Regions from separate parts of the Homo sapiens genome. Here regions 2 and 3 are each linked to region 1. The links come from fine-mapping of genetic effects on gene expression. A gene starts in region 1. Each other region holds a variant in brackets. All regions are shown on one strand. Distances are between the middles of the regions. Region 1 holds the start of HYCC1 (hyccin PI4KA lipid kinase complex subunit 1). Region 2 has its middle 21 kb from the start of HYCC1. Region 3 has its middle 50 kb from the start of SNORD93.

Region 1 (7,077 bases):
AAGCCTGGTTTCTGAACCACCACTCAGTTAAAACTGTTCTTGTTAAAGTTACCTATGGACTCCTGACAAATTCAGTGGTCACTGGGGCCCTCTCCTAACTTGACACCTCCTTACAGCATTCAAAATTGTTAACCTGTTCCTCCTCCACTGGAAAATCTCCCCGCCCTTGGCATCTTTCCTGATGGTCCTCCTACCTTGCTAGCTACTATTCCTCTAACTTTCAGACAATTCTTCTTCCTACTTCTGCTATTTATGAGAGTCTGTTCTCTGGCTGCCACTTTCACCAGGCTAAAGGCTTTCCCTGAGTCATTTCATCACAACTAAATCAATATAGCTTCAATTCAACCCCCAATCATCTCTCTAATCCTGATTTTCACATCCACAGATACAAACATCTATCTATATCTTCGCCTGAAGTTCCACTGCTTCCTCAAATTCAAAATAGCCAAAACAGAATTTATCATCTTCCTTCCATTTTTGTGTTCCTCATTTCCATCAACAGAACCCCAAGTCAAACCTTCACAGTCCTGAGTCCTCCTTTCTTCTCATAGGTGATTAGGACTTGTTAGTTTTTCCCTCACTCTGCCACAGTAAAGGTCTAAAATACAAATCCAATAAATGGCTTCTCATCTATCACGTTCAATCCAATCCCTTTAGCTAAGGATACCATTCCCTGATCTGGCCCTCTACCACCCTCACTATCTTCATCTGGCACCATTTCCTACTAACCCCTGCATTCAAGCCATATCAATGTCAATGTTATTGACTTTGTCAACTGCCAATGTCAATTGACACTGACTCGTCATTGTCAATGACTTATCTAAATTGCCACAGTTTCTCAGGCCTCCTTGCCTTCTCAATTACTATATCCTCCTCTTGGGAAGTTACTTACCTCCTGCACTTGGCAAAATCATATCATCCTTCACAACTTGGCTGTGTGCTCCCAACTCCACCTACACTCAAGGCAAGTTAACTATCTCCTACTCTAAACTCTCCTACTACACTAGGCATATCTCTATTCCCACTGACTACATAGTATTATAATTGTTAATTTACTGTAATGTTACTAACATCTTGTATGTTAGATAGTAAATTCCTTGAAGACAAGAGCTATGACATTCATTTCTGTATCCCTAGTACCTACTCAGCCTGGAAGAGTGAAAAAATAAATTTATGTTTGATATAATTTCAATCATTTATAAAATATAAACGATACCCCAAAATAGGTCTTGAATACTAAGATTTCTTAAAATTTCTTAAGATCCATTATAAAATAAATATTAGGCAACAGGATGCTGAATAAAACAGTACATATATTTAAACTCACCGTCAAAGACACCAGTCTAAAAAATACAACCCAGAGCAAATTTCATAAAACAGAAATACAACAATGAAAGGAAGCAGAGCAAGGATAAACGCTGACCCAGCTAATGCCTTATCGGGTGTCTGTATCCAGGTACTGCTAATGCCGATGACTAAGAAGGTTTCTAATCCTTCTAATCCCTCATGGTAATTTCAATAAATCGAATAAGGATAAACGAGCCAAATCCAGAATTTGTTTCCTAAATATGTGATGCTTTTCCCCCTTGCCACTTGGTTTGATTGAACTGATTATTTGAATAGCTGACTTTGAAGCCACTATTGGCCAAGCAGATCTTAAATGTTTTTCCTTCCTTGTCTTTGCCTGCACTTCAAAAATATGGTGGTTTAGACTACTATTCATCCTGTAAACCTTAAAATGTATTCACCTAAAGAAAAAAAAATACTTGGAAATGTCGGGGGAGGTGGGGTGCCTGTGGATGTTAGCAGTAGAATGTTTTCATGGAAAACAAGCCTCCCAGTCTTTCTGACTTTATGGCAATAAGATTTGAAAGCTGAAAACCTCAAACTGTAAAGTGTTACATGAACCAAAGAGGTGGCCCACCTGCTCCAAAAACTACTGTGTGATCCAAGGATAAATAATTTGCAAAAGGTCAGCTTGGCCCTACTGCCTGTAGGGCAGTCTCTGAGATAAGAAGTAGCTGCCGGTGGAACAAATTCCCCCTACCTGAAGAGCGCCGCGGCTGCCAGGCTTGTGATAGTGTATTTCTCAGAGAGCAGATTCTGTGCAGTACTAAACCACTTAGGCAAAATTAAAATCTTTCAGGAATGTCTAAACTCACAAAGCACACATGTGCAAGCTGACGGGCAGACAGCAAATTTCGGGGAAGCGTACAAACTTGGGGGTGTTTTAATGCAACCATTTTCAGCCAAACCCCCGAGGATTCCCGAGTATGTTAAAATGAGCCTCAGGAGAGGAATAACTCATAGAAAGAAGGGGCAAGGGCTCAAGAAGAGATCTTCAGCGAAATAACCAAGGAAGGAAGCGTGGCTGCTGTCTGAACCTCTCCGCCCTGCAGGGGACCAAAGACCGACTCGGGCCAACGCTGCTCTCCAGGGGGCGAGGGCGGGGGGTCGACAGTGACCATTGTGGCCACCAGACCGGACGGACAGTGGCGGCCTCGCCGAAGTAGAGGGCGCGAGTGGGAGAGGAGGCAGAGGCCAGAGCATCCGCCGCGGCAGGGAGGGGACGGGGGGCTCCCGCCCCAGGCCCACCCGGCAGAGGGGCGGCCGGTGGGGCCGAGGCGGCGGCACCCGGGTCACAGCAGGAGGCTGGACTGCTCCTCGCCGGGAAGGAAAGACCCGAGTCGCGCGCACAAAGCTGCCGCCCTCCAGGCAGCGGGCAGGCTGCGCCCAACTTCGGGGCGAGCAGCGCCGGCCGCAGCCCACCCGCCCGCCAGCCGCCCCCAGCGCCCCGCGCCGCCTCGCACCCACCCATGGCGCCTCGCGCGGGAGCCGTTACCCCCAGTGGAGCCGCGGCCCCAGGGACAAAGTCCCGGTCCTGTCCTCGCCGCCGCCTCGCCCCGGCTCCTCCCTGACAAAAAAAAGTTATCCGTTGCCGGACGCCCTGGGGGCCCGGCGTGGGTCTCTCGGCTGGACTCACCAGGGCGGCTGCCGGAGCTCCACCTGCAGGACCTCGACTCGTGAGGCTCTCAGCGACAGCGACGGAGGCTGCTCTGCTTCCTCCCGAGTAGCAGCACCACCTGCTCCCCTTCTTCCTAGCAGAACGGGTCCCGGTGAGCCATCTTCCCCCTCCTCTCACTGACTGACAACCCAGCCGGGAGAGCCACCACTGCCGCCAGCCTCTCTGACAGGCACGACCAGGGACCCGTCCTCAAGCAGCCAACCACCACCGCCCCACGCCAGTTCAGCCTATCGCCGTCCTCCGGGGCGGGATCAGAACAACTTCTCCACCAATGAGAATCTTCTTCTGCTGGGCCTGGGGCGGAGCCATGAGGCGCCTTGAGTGGGCGTGGTCTGAGCAATGGGCGTGATCCGGGCGTCCGAGGGAAGTTGATTGACTGTAAGGTTTGCGGTGGCCGCTAGGCGATGACAATCAGCGAAGGTCTCTTAGATTCTGAGCCGTTAGGGCTTATGGCCTTCTCAGAAAAAAATAAACCTTACCGGATGATGTGAAGGGTATCAATTTGTTTCTCTTTTGTGAGAAAAGAGAAACAAATTGATAATTTACTAGTCAGTAGGATTTACTTCCCTGTAATTAAATTCACAAGAATTTATCAAAATCTTATCAAATCCCGGGAGGAAAAAAAAATTACGTTTTTGCAAAATGGAAATACAAACTTCCCCCTCACTACATCATTGCTTTTGGGCTTAGCCTGGAAAAAGTCAAATACGATGCCTCAGTTTTCTTTCCATGGGGGTTGTTTTTATTTTTTCCATCATTCCTCCCTACTTTTTCTCTGAACATATACTAAATGTTTTGTATAATAACTGGAACCCGAGAACACCTGAACCTGCGCCTGCAGACAGTACTGCTGTTTTTGACCTTGTAAACCTCTCCTACCACATCCTTCTCAAGACTGGTCAGGATTAATTAGAAGAAAAACTGACCTCCACCCTAGAAGACAGGAAGTTCATTCTAGCTTTACACTAGAAATGGGCAGGATTTCTCCAGAAACACTAAGTGAACTTTTCAAACATGCTGAACTCATAAATAACAAGCACATAAATAAGAAGATATATTACTTGATATCAAAAGGGTATCAAGCAAACAATTTCAGGTAATTATTAGGGCAGATTGCTAAAACAGATAGGATCCCCCTCCAAAGGGAGGATCAGATTAATGAGTAAATAATAACAAACTACAGTGATAAGGACAATAGAGATTGGTTCAATGAGCAATGGAAACAGAGGACAAGAAATGACTGTTTAGGAAAGTCAGCGAACTCCACAAGGAAGGTAATGTTTGAGTTGGATCTTAAAAGGTAAATGGGAGTTTGCCAGAGAAGAAAGTCAAAGGGTATTTCAGAAAGGGAGAACACCATGTTCAAAGGCATGGAGCTGTGAAAGGGCACAGAGCCATTGTGGAATGTTGAGAAGGTAGATGGGGTTAAATGATGAGGAACGGCCAAAAATTGGGCTGGAGCAAAAGGTTGAGGTGAGATTGTAAAAGACCTCACAAGCTACACTAAGATATTCAGACAAGCACTGTCCAGCAGAGCTTTCTGCACTGGTGAAAATGTTCTATATTTGTGTTGTCCAAAATAGTAGCCATTAGCCACATGTGGCTATCAAATACTTGAAATGTGGTGTGACTGAAGAGCTCAATGTATTTATTTATTTATTTATTTATTTTTGAGACAAGGTCTCACTCTGTCACCCAAACTGGGGTAGAGTGCTTAAGTGATCCTCCCACCTCAGCCTCCCAAAGTGCTGGGATTACAGACATGAACTACCATACACGGCTGAAACTCAATTTTTAATTTTTTTTTTTTTTGGCAGAGTCTCCCTCTGTCACCCAGGCTGGAGTACAGTGGTGGGATCTTACCTCACTGCACTTCCACTTCCCAGGTTCAAGCAATTCTCCTGCCTCAGCCTCCTGAGTAGCTGGGGTTACATGAACTCACCACCACACCCAGCTAATTTTTGTATTTTTTGTAGAGACAGGGGTTCACCATGTTGGCCAGGCTGGTCTCGAACTCCTGACCTCAGGTGCTCCACCCACCTCAGCCTCCCAAAGTGCTGGGATTACAGGTGTGAACCACCATGTCTGGCATTAATTTTTAATTTTAACTTTAACAACTCCCATATTGGATAGCTCAGGTTTAGATTTTCTTCTTAAGGCAATGAGGGACAGACAACAGCTTTTAATCATGTGGACAATGCAATCAGGTTTCTTTTAAATGGTGAGAATCCAAAGAAAAAAAAACAGGGTAGAGAGGAAATTCTTGACAGATCAGACTGACTTAATTTAGGTCCCCTTGGCCAGAGCCTGTTCAGGACAAGTGTTTACTCAAAGAAATAGGGAGAGGAAGATCCAGGCAGCATGTTATTCATCTTAGAGAACACAAGCAGTCAAAACCTGAGACGTTGAATTCTGCCGTCAAGTCCCATTGAGTAGGAGAGTGAGGGACCAAGGAAGGAAAGAAACCGAGTCAGCCAGATCATAAGATAGAGAGAAACAAGAGTGGGCAAAAGAGTGCACACCTACGCGCATGCACACACACACACACACACACACACACACCATCAGTTTTACTGGCCATTGGCCATGTGTGCCAGTAATGTGTTGACCTGATTTGAAGAGCCAAAGTTTCTGGTGGCAGGAAGCCCAGCCAAGACCAGGACAAGATTCCAGGAGAGAATCTCGAACCAAACCTGTGGAAGTCAGGATGGAAGGGACAGGTAAATATTATTGACTTCCTGTACTGTACAAGGCACGTGGCTTGTCAAGGATACAGATGAATGCTAGAAGCTTGCTTATAGTATAGTTAGCTGCATAACAAACAGATGAAAGGTTAAGCAAAGATTAAAGTAATTATTTAATGCAGCAGTGGAGAGATTACATAAGGCAGTACATAATCGATTCATTGTTCAAATGATTTTCTAGGCATTAGCCGCTGTGTTTTCAGAGGAGGATGCAAGCACTGCAGTCAAGGGCAGTCAGGGAAGGCTTCATGAAAAAGGCAAAATGGGCTGGGTCTAGAAAACTGGGGAGGAATTTGAACCAGATAAAATGGTGAGAAAGTAACTCCCAGAATGCCTGGAGAAATAACACAAGAGGGGAAGCACAAGCAATGTTCAGAGGGCATGGGAGGCAACTTGAGTCAGCCAAGCCTGGCAAGCTAGGTTGCAGATAGATAATAGAACACCTTGAAGGCAAGCTCAGTTGTTCAGATTTTCTCCTTTTGCCTTGTGGCTTCCTGTCTGCTCATTAGAATCACTTAGGATGCCTTTCAAAATTATCAGTACTCAAACCGCACCCCACAGTAAATAAATAAATAAATTGGTGTGTGAGGCTAGTCATTGGGTTTTTAAAAAAGCTTCCCAAGTGGTTCTAATATACACCCAAGGTTGACAAAAGGGAAATAATATAACATGTTACTAGTGCCAAATCAGTGCCGTGCATAGGATAGATTGAGTGGAGAGAAACTGAAGTTTGGCTATGTATATTTATATATAATTTGTTTCCTTCCTGCAAGAAGACAGGAAGCAGTTTACTGCCTGACTTCACTTCCCATTTTGCAGTGGTAAGGTAGTATAGAAGGCAATTTAAGTTGTCTTCCCTCTAAGTCAGAGTAAAACGAAAGCACAAATTTATGTTTCCAGTCTACTCTCCTTTCCATCACAATTTGTGCATATAAAAATAATTTCCAACAATAACAGTCTGCAGTTAAGTTTTACACATAGCCGTTTATATTTTAATCGCAAAGCACCAGAAAAAATGCCTAAGAGAACATTCTGTTTCAAAAGGAAAATGCTTTTAACCTACTTTATAAAAGTCAACATATTCCAGATCTTTCCTGCTCATCTTTGCTAGTCTCTGATATCCACACGCATAATTCTAAAGTAACTATTAAAATGCATTTATCTTCTTGCAAATAACTGTATAAAAGTGCCAGTTGAACATTATAAACATAAACATTTTCCCTATGACATTAAATTTCAGGAATTTTAAGAAAAATTTAGTTCAAATATCTTTCTCTTTTTTTCTTTTTCTTTTCCTTTCTTTGTTTC
Region 2 (7,077 bases), 20 kb after region 1:
CTCAACTCCAGCCAGGAAGTCCTGGATCTACTTCCGCTCGCCCATGACCATGCTATGAAACACCAATAACTGTGGAAATTTAGAAGAAGGCTCTCCTCCAACTCCCAGAGTGGCTAATTCTAAGCAGAGCCTTTTCTACTTTTTTTTTTTTTTTTTAAGATGGAGTTTCCTTCTTGTTGACCAGGCTGGAGTACAATGGCGTGATCTCGCTCACTGCAACCTCCGCCTCCCGGGTTCAAGCGATTCTCCTGCCTCAGCCTCCCAAGTAGCTGGGATTATAGGCATGCGCCAGCACAACGGGCTAATTTTTTTGTTTGTTTTTTGAGACAGAGTCTCACTCTGTCGCCCAGGCTGGAGTGCAGTGGCGCAATCTCGGCTCACTGCAAGCTCTGCCTCCCGGGTTCACACCATTCTCCTGCATCAGCCTCCCAAGCAGCTGGGACTACAGGCGCCCACCACCACACACGGCTAATTTTTTTTTTTTTTTTTTTTTTGTATTTTTAGTAGAGATGGGGTTTCACCGTGTTAGCCAGGATGGTCTCGATCTCCTGACCTCGTGATCCGCCCGCCTCGGCCTCCCAAGTACTGGGATTACAGGCATGAGCCACCGCGCCCAGCCTTGTATTTTTTTTAGTAGAGACGAGGTTTCTCCATGTTGGTCAGGCTGGTCTAGAACTCCCTCCCGACCTCAGGCAATCCACCCGCCTCGGCCTCCCAAAGTGCTGGAATTACAGGCGTAAGCCACCGCGCCCGGCCTAAGCAGAGCCTTTTCTAATGGTTGAAAAATGAAGCAAACTTTACAGTGTGCTCCCACTCTCTTATCTGCTGTACCCCTGTCTCCAAATCAGGTCTCAACAAATATCTCAAGGGATCTGAAAAGGGATACCCAGTTATGAAAGGGCAACCTATGGCCTGAAAGGAATGTGTGGAGTGAAGGAGCATAGTTTTGACAACTTTGCTTTGGTGATTTTGGGAAGTGGTTGTGGGCAATTGGCATATGAATCTTGTTTTTTGTTGAAAACAAAACAAAAGAGGAAAAGGCTGGCTGATAGCTGGTTGTCTCTTTGGCCACCCCTGAGGCTCAACCACTGGTTTTTTTATGTACTGGGTCCCCATTCAGGGTCTGGAACTTTGATTCATCTTTGTGATCATCATACAAAAGAGAGCTTGGATGCAGGTGGCTAAAAGCTGCAGGATGCATAAATGCTTCTATGCCTTTTAACAACCCCATGGGTAATTTTTTTTTTTTTTTTTTTGAGACGGAGTCTCTCTCTGTCACCCGGGCTGGGGTGCAGTGGAGCGATCTCGGCTCACTGCAACCTCTGCCTTCTGGGTTCAAGCAATTCTCCTGCCTCAGCCTCCCAAGTAGCTGGGACTACAGTTGTGCGCCACTATGCCCAGCTAATTTTTGTATTTTTAGTAGAGAAGGGATTTCACCATGTTGGTTAGCCAGGATGGTCTCGATCTCTTGACCTCGTGATTCTCCCTCCTCGGCCTCCCAAAATGCTGGGATTACAGGCGTGAGCCACCGCACCTGGATGGGTAATTTTATTATTTTACAAGTCAGTAAACCGATGCTTAGAGAAGTTAACCAACTTGATCAAGGTCACACAGCGGTGGAGAAGAGATTCCACCCCATACTTTTTGGGCTCCAGAGAACATAAGCTTTCCACTACGTTAGCTTATCCTGAGAGAAAGGGGTTTTGGTTGGAGGGTGAGGTAGAGAATGACCAATTTTGGAGAAGGTGTGAATTTGGAGTCGGACCAGTCCTAAATAAGTGTTCTAGAAGGGAACTCTAGGAAGACAGGGAAACATGGACCCCAGCCACAGTGGATCTGGGAAAGAACTAAAGGGAGAGGGAGGGCATTAGAGACAAGCATTACCTGCTTCAAAAACTTGAGCACCATTAAATGGATTTTGACATCCAGGCATGACTTGGTGTTGTGTAGAAAATAAATAGATGCAGCTCTTATATTTTTAATCATGTGACATTTTAATCTCATAGATCTACATTCAAATTCTGGGCTCATTAAGTCTTTAATTTGTTTTTGAAGCAGTTGTAATTGAAACGAACTGGGGTCCACTAGCCTGGCACAGTAAGGCCAAAAATCTATACCAAGGTTTGTAGCCAGACAAAGGATGTTTATTTGCGGGGCACCAAGCAAGGAGAATCAGGCAACTCACACTTAAGACCCTGTCTCCCCAGTGGCTTGCAAGTAAGGGTTTTTGTTTGTTTGCTTGTTTGTTTTTGAGATGGAGTCTCACTCTGTCACCCAGGCTGGAATGCAGTGGCATGATTTCGGCTCACTGCAACCCCCACCTCCCCGGTTCAAGCGATTCTCCTGCGTCAGCCTCCTGAGTAGCTGGGAATACAGACGTGCACCACCACACCAGCTAATTTTTGTATTTTTAGTAGAGACAGGGTTTCACTGTGTTAGCCAGGATGATCTCGATCCCCTGACCTCGTGATCCGCCCGCCTTGGCCTCCCAAAGTGCTGGGATTATAGGCATGAGCCACCACGCCTAGCCACAGGTTAAGAGTTTTTAAAGGCAGGGGTAAATTTCAGGAAACCAGAAGTTATAGGCAACAATTATAAATTAATATATGAAGGTTATATATTGGTTTGACGTAAAAAGGATAGAACATCTTGATGTGGGGGCTTACAGGTCCTAAGGAGATTTTAAGATTTTCTGATTTGCAATTAGTTAAGGAAAAGAAGCTCTATTTAAAATTTTGGGTCAACACCATGATTGTATATTTAGAAAACCCCATAGTCTCAGCCCAAAATCTCCTTAAGCTGACAAGCAACTTCAGCAAAGTCTCAGGATACAAAAAAATCAATGTGCAAAAATCACAAGCATTCTTATACACCAATAATAGACAAACAGAGAGCCAAATCATTAGTGAACTCCCATTCATAACTGCTTCAAAGAGAATAAAATACCTAGGAATCCAACTTACAAGGGACGTGAAGGATCTCTTCAAGGAGAACTACAAACCACTGTTCAACGAAATAAAAGAGGATACAAACAAATAGAAGAACATTCCATGCTCATGGATAGGAAGAATCAATATTGTGAAAATGGCCATACTGTCCAAGGTAATTTAAAGATTCAATGCCATCCCCATAAAACTACCAATGACTTTCTTAACAGCATTGGAAAAAACTACTTTAAAGTTCATATAGAACCAAAAAAGAGCCTGCATTGCCAAGACAATCCTAAGCCAAAAGAACAAAGCTGGAGGCATCATGCTACCTGACTTCAAACTATACTACAAGGCTA[C/T]AGTAACCAAAATAGCATGGTACTGGTACCAAAACAGAGATATAGACCAATGGAACAGAACAGAGCCCTCAGAAATAATACCACACATCTACAACCATCTGATCTTTGACAAACCTGACAACAACAAGAAATGGGGAAAGGATTCCCTATTTAATAAATGGTGCTGGGAAAACTGGCTAGCCATAGGTAGAAACCTAAAATTGGATCCCTTCCTTATACCTTATACAAAAATTAATTCAAGATGGATTAAAGACTTAAATGTTAGACCTGAAACCATAAAAACTCTAGAAGAAAACCTAGCTATTACCATTCAGGACATAGCCATGGGCAAGGACTTCATGTCTAAAACACCAAAAGCAATGGCAGCAAAAGCCAAAATTGACAAATGGGATCTAATTAAACTAAAGAGCTTCTGCACAGCAAAAGAAACTACCATCAGAGTGAACAGGCAACCTACAACATGGGAGAAAATTTTCGCAACCTACTCATCTGACAAAGGGCTAATATCCAGAATCTACAAAGAACTCAAACAAATTTACAAGAAAAAAACAAACAACTTCATCAAAAAGTGGGCCAAGGATATGAACAGACACTTCTCAAAAGAAGACATTTATGCAGCCAACAGACACATGAAAAAATGCTCATCATCACTGGCCATCAGAGAAATGCAAATCAAAACCACAATGAGATACCATCCCACACCAGTGAGAATGGTGATCATTAAAAAGTCAGGAAACAACAGGTGCTGGACAAGATGTGGAGAAATAGGAACACTTTTACACTGTTGGTGGGGCTGTAAACTAGTTCAACCATTGTGGAAGACAGCGTGGCGATTCCTCAAGGATCTAGAACTAGAAATACCGTTTGACCCAGCCATCCCATTACTGGGTATATAGCCAAAGGATTATAAATCATGCTGCTATAAAGACACATACACATGTATGTTTATTGCAGCACTATTCACAATAGCAAAGACTTGGAACCACCCCAAATGTCCATCAATGATAGACTGGTTTAAGAAAATGTGGCACGGAAATAGAGCCAAGATGGCTGAATAGGAACAGCTCCGGTCTACAGCTCCCAGCGTGAGCGACGCAGAAGACGGGTGATTTCTGCATTTCCATCTGAGGTACCGGGTTCATCTCACTAGGGAGTGCCAGACAGTGGGCGCAGGCCAGTGGGTGCGCGCACCGGGCGTGAGCCAAAGCAGGGCGAGGCATTGCCTCACCTGGGAAGCGCAAGGGGTCAGGGAGTTCCCTTTCCGAGTCAAAGAAAGGGGTGACGGACGCACCTGGAAAATCGGGTCACTCCCACCCGAATATTGCGCTTTTCAGACTGGCTTAAAAAACGGCGCACCACGAGACTATATCCCACACCTGGCTCGGAGGGTCCTACGCCCCCGGAATCTCGCTGATTGCTAGCACAGCAGTCTGAGATCAAACTGCAAGGCGGCAGCGAGGCTGGGGGAGGGGCGCCCGCCATTGCCCAGGCTTGCTTAGGTAAACAAAGCAGCCGGGAAGCTCGAACTGGGTGGAGCCCACCACAGCTCAAGGAGGCCTGCCTGCCTCTGTAGGCTCCACCTCTGGGGGCAGGGCACAGACAGACAAAAAGGCAGCAGTAACCTCTGCAGACTTAAATGTCCCTGTCTGACAGCTTTGAAGAGAGCAGTGGTTCTCCTAGCACGCAGCTGGAGATCTGAGAATGGGCAGACTGCCTCCTCAAGTGGGTCCCTGACCCCTGACCCCCGAGCAGCCTAACTGGGAGGCACCCCCCAGCAGGGGCACACTGACACCTCACACGGCAGGGTATTCCAACAGACCTGCAGGTGAGGGTCCTGTCTGTTAGAAGGAAAACTAACAAACAGAAAGGACATCCACACCGAAAACCCATCTGTACATCACCATCATCAAAGACCAAAAGTAGATAAAACCACAAAGATGGGGAAAAAACAGAACAGAAAAACTGGAAACTCTAAAACGCAGAGCGCCCCTCCTCCTCCAAAGGAACGCAGTTCCTCACCAGCAACGGAACAAAGCTGGATGGAGAATGACTTTGACGAGCTGAGAGAAGAAGGCTTCAGACGATCAAATTACTCTGAGCTACGGGAGGACATTCAAACCAAAGGCAAAGAAGTTGAAAACTTTGAAAAAAATTTAGAAGAATGTATAACTAGAATAACCAATACAGAGAAGTGCTTAAAGGAGCTGATGGAGCTGAAAACCAAGGCTCGAGAACTACGTGAAGAATGCAGAAGCCTCAGGAGCCGATGTGATCAACTGGAAGAAAGGGTATCAGCAATGGAAGATGAAATGAATGAAATGAAGCAAGAAGGGAAGGTTAGAGAAAAAAGAATAAAAAGAAATGAGCAAAGCCTCCAAGAAATATGGGACTATGTGAAGAGACCAAATCTACGTCTGATTGGTGTACCTGAAAGTGATGCGGAGAATGGAACCAAGTTGGAAAACACTCTACAGGATATTATCCAGGAGAACTTCCCCAATCTAGCAAGGCAGGCCAACGTTCAGATTCAGGAAATACAGAGAACGCCACAAAGATACTCCTCGAGAAGAGCAACTCCAAGACACATAATTGTCAGATTCACCAAAGTTGAAATGAAGGAAAAAATGTTAAGGGCAGCCAGAGAGAAAGGTCGGGTTACCCTCAAAGGGAAGCCCATCAGACTAACAGCGGATCTCTCGGCAGAAACCCTACAAGCCAGAAGAGAGTGGGGGCCAATATTCAACATTCTTAAAGAAAAGAATTTTCAACCCAGAGTTTCATATCCAGCCAAACTAAGCTTCATAAGTGAAGGAGAAATAAAATACTTTACAGACAAGCAAATGCCGAGAGATTTTGTCACCACTAGGCCTGCCCTAAAAGAGCTCCTGAAGGAAGCGCTAAACATGGAAAGGAACAACCGGTACCAGCCGCTGCAAAATCATGCCAAAATGTAAAGACCATCGAGACTAGGAAGAAACTGCATCAACTAACGAGCAAAATCATCAGCTAACATCATCATGACAGGATCAAATTCACACATAACAATATTAACTTTAAATGTAAATGGACTAAATGCTCCAATTAAAAGACACAGACTGGCAAGTTGGATAAAGACTCAAGACCCATCAGTGTGCTGTATTCAGGAAACCCATCTCACATGCAGAGACACACATAGGCTCAAAATAAAAGGATGGAGGAAGATCTACCAAGCAAATGGAAAACAAAAAAAGGCAGGGGTTGCAATCCTAGTCTCTGATAAAACAGACTTTAAACCAACAAAGATCAAAAGAGACAAAGAAGGCCATTACATAATGGTAAAGGGATCAATTCAACAAGAGGAGCTAACTATCCTAAATATATATGCACCCAATACAGGAGCACCCAGATTCATAAAGCAAGTCCTGAGTGACCTACAAAGAGACTTAGACTCCCACACATTAATAATGGGAGACTTTAACACCCCACTGTCAACATTAGACAGATCAACGAGACAGAAAGTCAACAAGGATACCCAGGAATTGAACTCAGCTCTGTACCAAGAAGACCTAATAGACATCTACAGAACTCTCCACCCCAAATCAACAGAATATACATTCTTTTCAGCACCACACCACACCTATTCCAAAATTGACCACATAGTTGGAAGTAAAGCTCTCCTCAGCAAATGTAAAAGAACAGAAATTATAACAAACTATCTCTCAGACCACAGTGCAATCAAACTAGAACTCAGGATTAAGAATCTCACTCAAAGCCGCTCAACTACATGGAAACTGAACAACCTGCTCCTGAAT
Region 3 (5,000 bases), 110 kb before region 1:
TAGTAATTGAAACCTTAAAAAAATATGTTTTTAGGGCCGGGCATGGTGGCTCATGCCTGTAATCCCAGCACTTTGGAAGGCCAAGGCGGGCGGATCACGAGGTCAGGAGATCGAGACCATCTTGGCTAACACAGTGAAACCCCATCTCTACTAAAAGTACAAAAACTTAGCCGGGCGTGGTGGCAGGTGCCTGTAGTCTCAGCTACTTGGGAGGCTGAGGCAGGAGAATGGCATGAATCCAGGAGGCGGAGCTTGTAGTGAGCTGAGATCGTGCCACTGCACTCCAGCCTGGGCAACAGAGCGAGACTCTGTCTCAAAAAAAAAAAAAAAGTAATAATAATAATAATATATATATGTCTTTGGTAACCCATAGCACTTATTCCTGGAAAGCAAAGTGAAGTAAAACATAATTCATCATGCTTTCAACAGAATAAAGGTATAAGTCACATTTTAAAGGAAAATATTTTATACAAGTCACCATCTGTGTTAGACCATTCTTGCATTACTATAAAGAAATAACTGAGTCTGGGTAAGTTATAAAGAAAAGAGGTTTAGGGCCAGGCATGGTGGCTCATGACAGCACTTTGGGAGGTCGAGGTGGGCAGATCACTTGAGGCCAGGAGTTTGAGACCAGCCTGGCCAACATGGTGAAACCCTGTCTCTACTAAAAATCCAAAAATTAGACAGGTGTGGTGGTATGCACCTGTAGTCCCAGCTACTCAGGAGGCTGAGGTGACAGAGGGAGACTTTGTCTCAAAAAAAAAAAAAAAAGAAAGAAAAGAGGTTTAATTGGCTCATGGTTCTGCAGGCTATACAGGAAGCATGGTGCTGGCATCCACAAGACTCCTGGTGAGGGCCTCAGGGAGGTTACAATCGTGGTAGAAGGAGAAAGGGAGTAGAGTATCACACAGCAAGAAAGGGAACAAGAGAGAGAAGGAGGGAGGGGCCACACAGTTTTAAAAAACCAGATCTTTTGTGAACTCACTTACCACCAAAGGGTTGGCACTAAGCCATTCATGACAGATCCACCCCCGTGATCCAAACACCACCCACCAGGCCCACCTCCAACACTGGGGATTACATTTCTTTTTTCTTTTTTTCTTTTTGTTGAAACAGAGTGTTGCTGTGTTGCCCAGGCTGGAGTGCAGTGGTGATCTTGGCTCACTGCAACCTCCACCTCCCAGGTTCAAGCGATTCTCCTGTCTCAGCCTCCCAAGTAGTGAGTAGCTGGGATTTAGAGGCACGCACCAGGATACCCGGCTAATTTTGTATTTTTTTTTTTTTTTTTTTTTTTTTTTTAGTAGAGACAGTGTTTCTCCTTGTTGGCCGGGCTAGTCTTGAACTCTTGACCTCAAGTGATCTACCCGCCTCAGCCTCCCAAAGTGTTGAGATTACAGGCATGAGCCACCGATTTGAAGGGGACAAATATACAAACCATGTCACCATCTTTACTTAATTTCTTCTCATAAGGATTTAATAATATAATTAAAGAAAATTTGCTAAGAAGGAAAAAAGTGCTATTATCATCCTGTAAGTTTTTATTTTTATATAATTCTTTTCAATTTTTCCTGAAATGCAGTTATATTTATACATGGCATCATGCATTCTGGTTTTTCACATAGAATATAAAATGTTTTATGTCTACATAAGTTGTTTGATAAAAATGAAATATATTAAGTTACGGAGGATTTCTTTAACACAATTTATAATTTTGCAATCTATTTACAGGAGGATACAAAACTCTAATAGAGGAAAAATAAATTTATGAAGACATGTGCCTTATTGTTGTGTGAGAAGATGAAGTAAAATATTAATATGTTCATTAAGTTAGATTACATTAAGTACCAGTTACAGTCTCCAGCCCACCCTCTTGACAAGTTTATAGTGTAATTCATCTGGAAAGATTAGTAAGACTATCATACAGTGCCATTACTGATGATCATGATGGTGATAATGATAATGATGATGATGATTAGTAGTTATAATAATATAGTCATCTGAATGCGGCAATTTTTTTTCCAGAACAGCATTGATACTTGCTAACTCAGATCAATTAATATTTCCATCTCCACTGACTGATGTATTAAATTTGAAAGTTATTCTAAAGAGGTGGCATTAAACATTAAAAACTATTCTAAAAGCTAGAAAAAAATGGACTCGTGTATTTATCTCAGCTATGAAAGAATGATACATGACTCAAACCTGTAATCTCAGCACTTTGGGAGACCAAGGCAGGCGGATCACCTGAGCTCAGGAGTTCGAGACCAGCCTGGCCAACATGGTGAAACCCCACGTCTACTAAAAATACAAAAATCAGCCGAGCATGGTAGCGTGTGTGTGTAATCCCAGCTACTTGGGAGGCTGAGGCACGAGAATCACTTGAACCTAGGAGGCTGAGGTTGCAGTGAGCCAAGATCGCGCCACTGCAATCCAGCCTGGGTGACAGAGTGAGACTCGGTCTCAAAAAAAAAAAAAGAATGATACATGACAAAATGGAGGCCATTTTCAGATATACATAAAATATACTAGTATAAAATATTAAAAGTAACAAAAGAAAGATAAATATGTAATATAGTACTAATAAAAGACAATTTTAAATATATAAGGTTAGTACCTGATTCTGCCTGACTTACAGCCAAGGTGGACAAACCACTTACGCATGCAGACTTAAAGACATCAAATTACCAAAATGAAAAATACACACCTGGCTGGGTTTCTTTAATACATGTACAATCTAGGGCACAATTACACATCTATTAAAAATTGAAAAAGAATTAAAAGCCCAAGATTGGAAGCACTCATTTGCAGAAGTTGGGGTTGGAAGGTGGGAATACAAAAAATTAGCTGGGCATGGGGGCGGGCACTTGTAATCCCAGCTACTCGGGAGGCTGAGGAAGGAGAATCACTTGAGCTTGGGAGGCAGAGGTTGCAGTAAGCCGAGATCGTGCCACTGCACTCCAGCCTGGGTGACAGAGTGAGACTCTATCT[CAA/C]AAAAAAAAAAAAAAAAAAAAAAAAAGCAATGGTTCTTCTAGTGTACAAGTCAATCACCTGGCCCAGGCTGGTTCGGGCCTTCACAAAAGAATAACGGTATCTAGGAGTGGTGTGAAAACTTTCCCTTTCTCCTTACTTAGTTCAACTAAGATGCCTGGATTTTTAAAAATAAACCTTTATTAAGAAACAAAGGTAACAATGAAGCAAAAAAGTATTGGCACCTGGTGGGGTCTAGCCAAAAACTGGCTGAGGCTGGCTGGCACGTTACCTTAGCCTGTCCAGGCAACCTCATCACGGAATCCCTCAGCCCCTTCTGGTCCCTGGAATCTAGGAGATCTGTTAGGAGAGTGAACAACTATTCAAACACCATTTATTGAGAACCTTTTAGGTATTAGAGACTTCAATGAGCCAAATATTTTCCTGGTGCTTATCTAAACAAATAATCATAAGGAAGTGTGCAAAATATTTTGAAGGATTCATAGGTAGATGCAGACTGACATGCTTATTAAAATGCAGATTTCAGCTGGGTGCGGGGGCCCACCCCTGTAATCCCAGCACTTTGGGAGGCCGAGGCGGGTGGATCACTTGATGTCAGGAGTTTGAGACCAGCCTGGCCAACATGGTGAAACCCCGTCTCTACTAAAAAAATACAAAAGTTAGCTGGGCGTGGTGGCGCATGCTCATAGTCCCAGCTGCCCAGGAGGCTGAGGCAGGAGAATCGCTTGAACCCGGGAGGCGGAAGTTGCAGTGAGCTGAGATCACACCACTGCTCTCCAGCCTGAGCAACAGAACAAGAGCCTGTCTCAAAAATAAATAAATAAATATGCAGATTTTTATGCTTCTTTCCCACTACCACCCCCACTCTCCCATTTGCTGACCCATAATCTATTATTAGGAATGAGAAATCTTCCCAGAAGGTTCTCATGCAGGCAGTCTGAGGGCTGCCCTCAAGCAAAAAGTGGACTTAAAGGAGGATTAAGACCTCTCTTGCCTCCAAATTTTCTGAGTTTATAATTTTGTTTTAGTAGACTAAAACATAAGAAGAGCTTAAGTGATGAAAAATAGGGAAATGCACAAGGCATAGTTCCATACAATGGAGTGGTAAAAAGGTCATTTGACAAATTTCTTTTGGAAGACGTTGGTGCTCTTCTATTTTAGGAGCTAACAAGAGCCCTGGTACCCATAGATTCCTTTTTAGTCTGACTTCCACTATATACTCAATTTAAGTAGCTTGCTTTGGTTACATTTTCTTGTATGGCACTGTTGTGAAACACATGCTCTAATGTTCCAGCACACAGACACGATTTGGCATTTCTTTTGCTTGTGATTTTGGTTTTATTATGCCTCTATTCTGGTCTTCCAGGCATTATGTGGAGAGGTAATGTTGAAAACCACATTCTCCAAATAGAGCTGTTAATTCCATGCATCTTTGATCTACATCTTCTGTTACTTGCATTTACTCCCCCTCCATTTGTCACCCCATCAGTGATTCTCCATCTGACCCTGAACACCTTTCCAGCCTCTAATAAAATCTGCACTCCAGTCAGACTGGACTCCTTATACCTTGTGTAGTAAAGAATTAAGTGTACCCAAAGAGAGGTCTGGCCTTTACTCTCAGCTCCTAAAAGGTCATCTGTAAGCCCTTGAAATGTCTTGACTGATAAGAATGACTTTGTTTACCTGGGGGCCTTGGGCCACACTGGGTAGTCTAAGAGTGTGATTTATTGTGGGGGTTTGGTACTATGCAGTATCAGCTTGACCTCCAGAGGGGCTACAGCCTAAAAGCCAGTTATGCAGGCAGTCAACTGTATTGATGTGACTGAGCCCCAATAAAAACTCTGTGCATTAAGGCTCAGATGAGCTTTCCTGGTTGATAATACTCTAGGTGGACTGTCTCCCATTATTGCTGGGAGAAGTTAACATGGTCCATGACCATGCTGGGAGAGGACAACTAGAAACCACACATGGACTTCTCCTGGGCTCTGCCTGATATGGGTTGAATCTGTGTC

What was found. PIP is the estimated chance that this variant, and not a neighbour inherited with it, causes the effect. A credible set is the group of variants that fine-mapping cannot tell apart.
Region 2: its variant is the best candidate, but not a certain one, in a credible set for the expression of HYCC1 in blood mononuclear cells (TOPMed, PIP 0.60).
Region 3: its variant is the best candidate, but not a certain one, in a credible set for the expression of HYCC1 in Th2 cells (Schmiedel 2018, PIP 0.79).

What each region holds. Positions count from the first base shown.
Region 1 is chr7:23,010,942-23,018,018 of GRCh38, forward strand. It overlaps HYCC1 (hyccin PI4KA lipid kinase complex subunit 1), which reads right to left and starts at 3,189. Exons shown (of 11, transcript NM_032581.4): 1 at 2,984-3,189. RefSeq lists enhancers at 1,891-2,572, 2,990-3,179, 3,340-3,519 and a silencer at 2,530-2,799.
Region 2 is chr7:23,031,411-23,038,487 of GRCh38, forward strand. No RefSeq gene overlaps it. Among named protein-coding and RNA genes, the nearest start is that of HYCC1, 21 kb to the left of the region's middle. The variant C/T (reference allele first, on the strand shown) is at 3,287.
Region 3 is chr7:22,904,116-22,909,115 of GRCh38, forward strand. It overlaps a transcript of HYCC1 not described here. Among named protein-coding and RNA genes, the nearest start is that of SNORD93, 50 kb to the left of the region's middle. The variant CAA/C (reference allele first, on the strand shown) is at 2,989.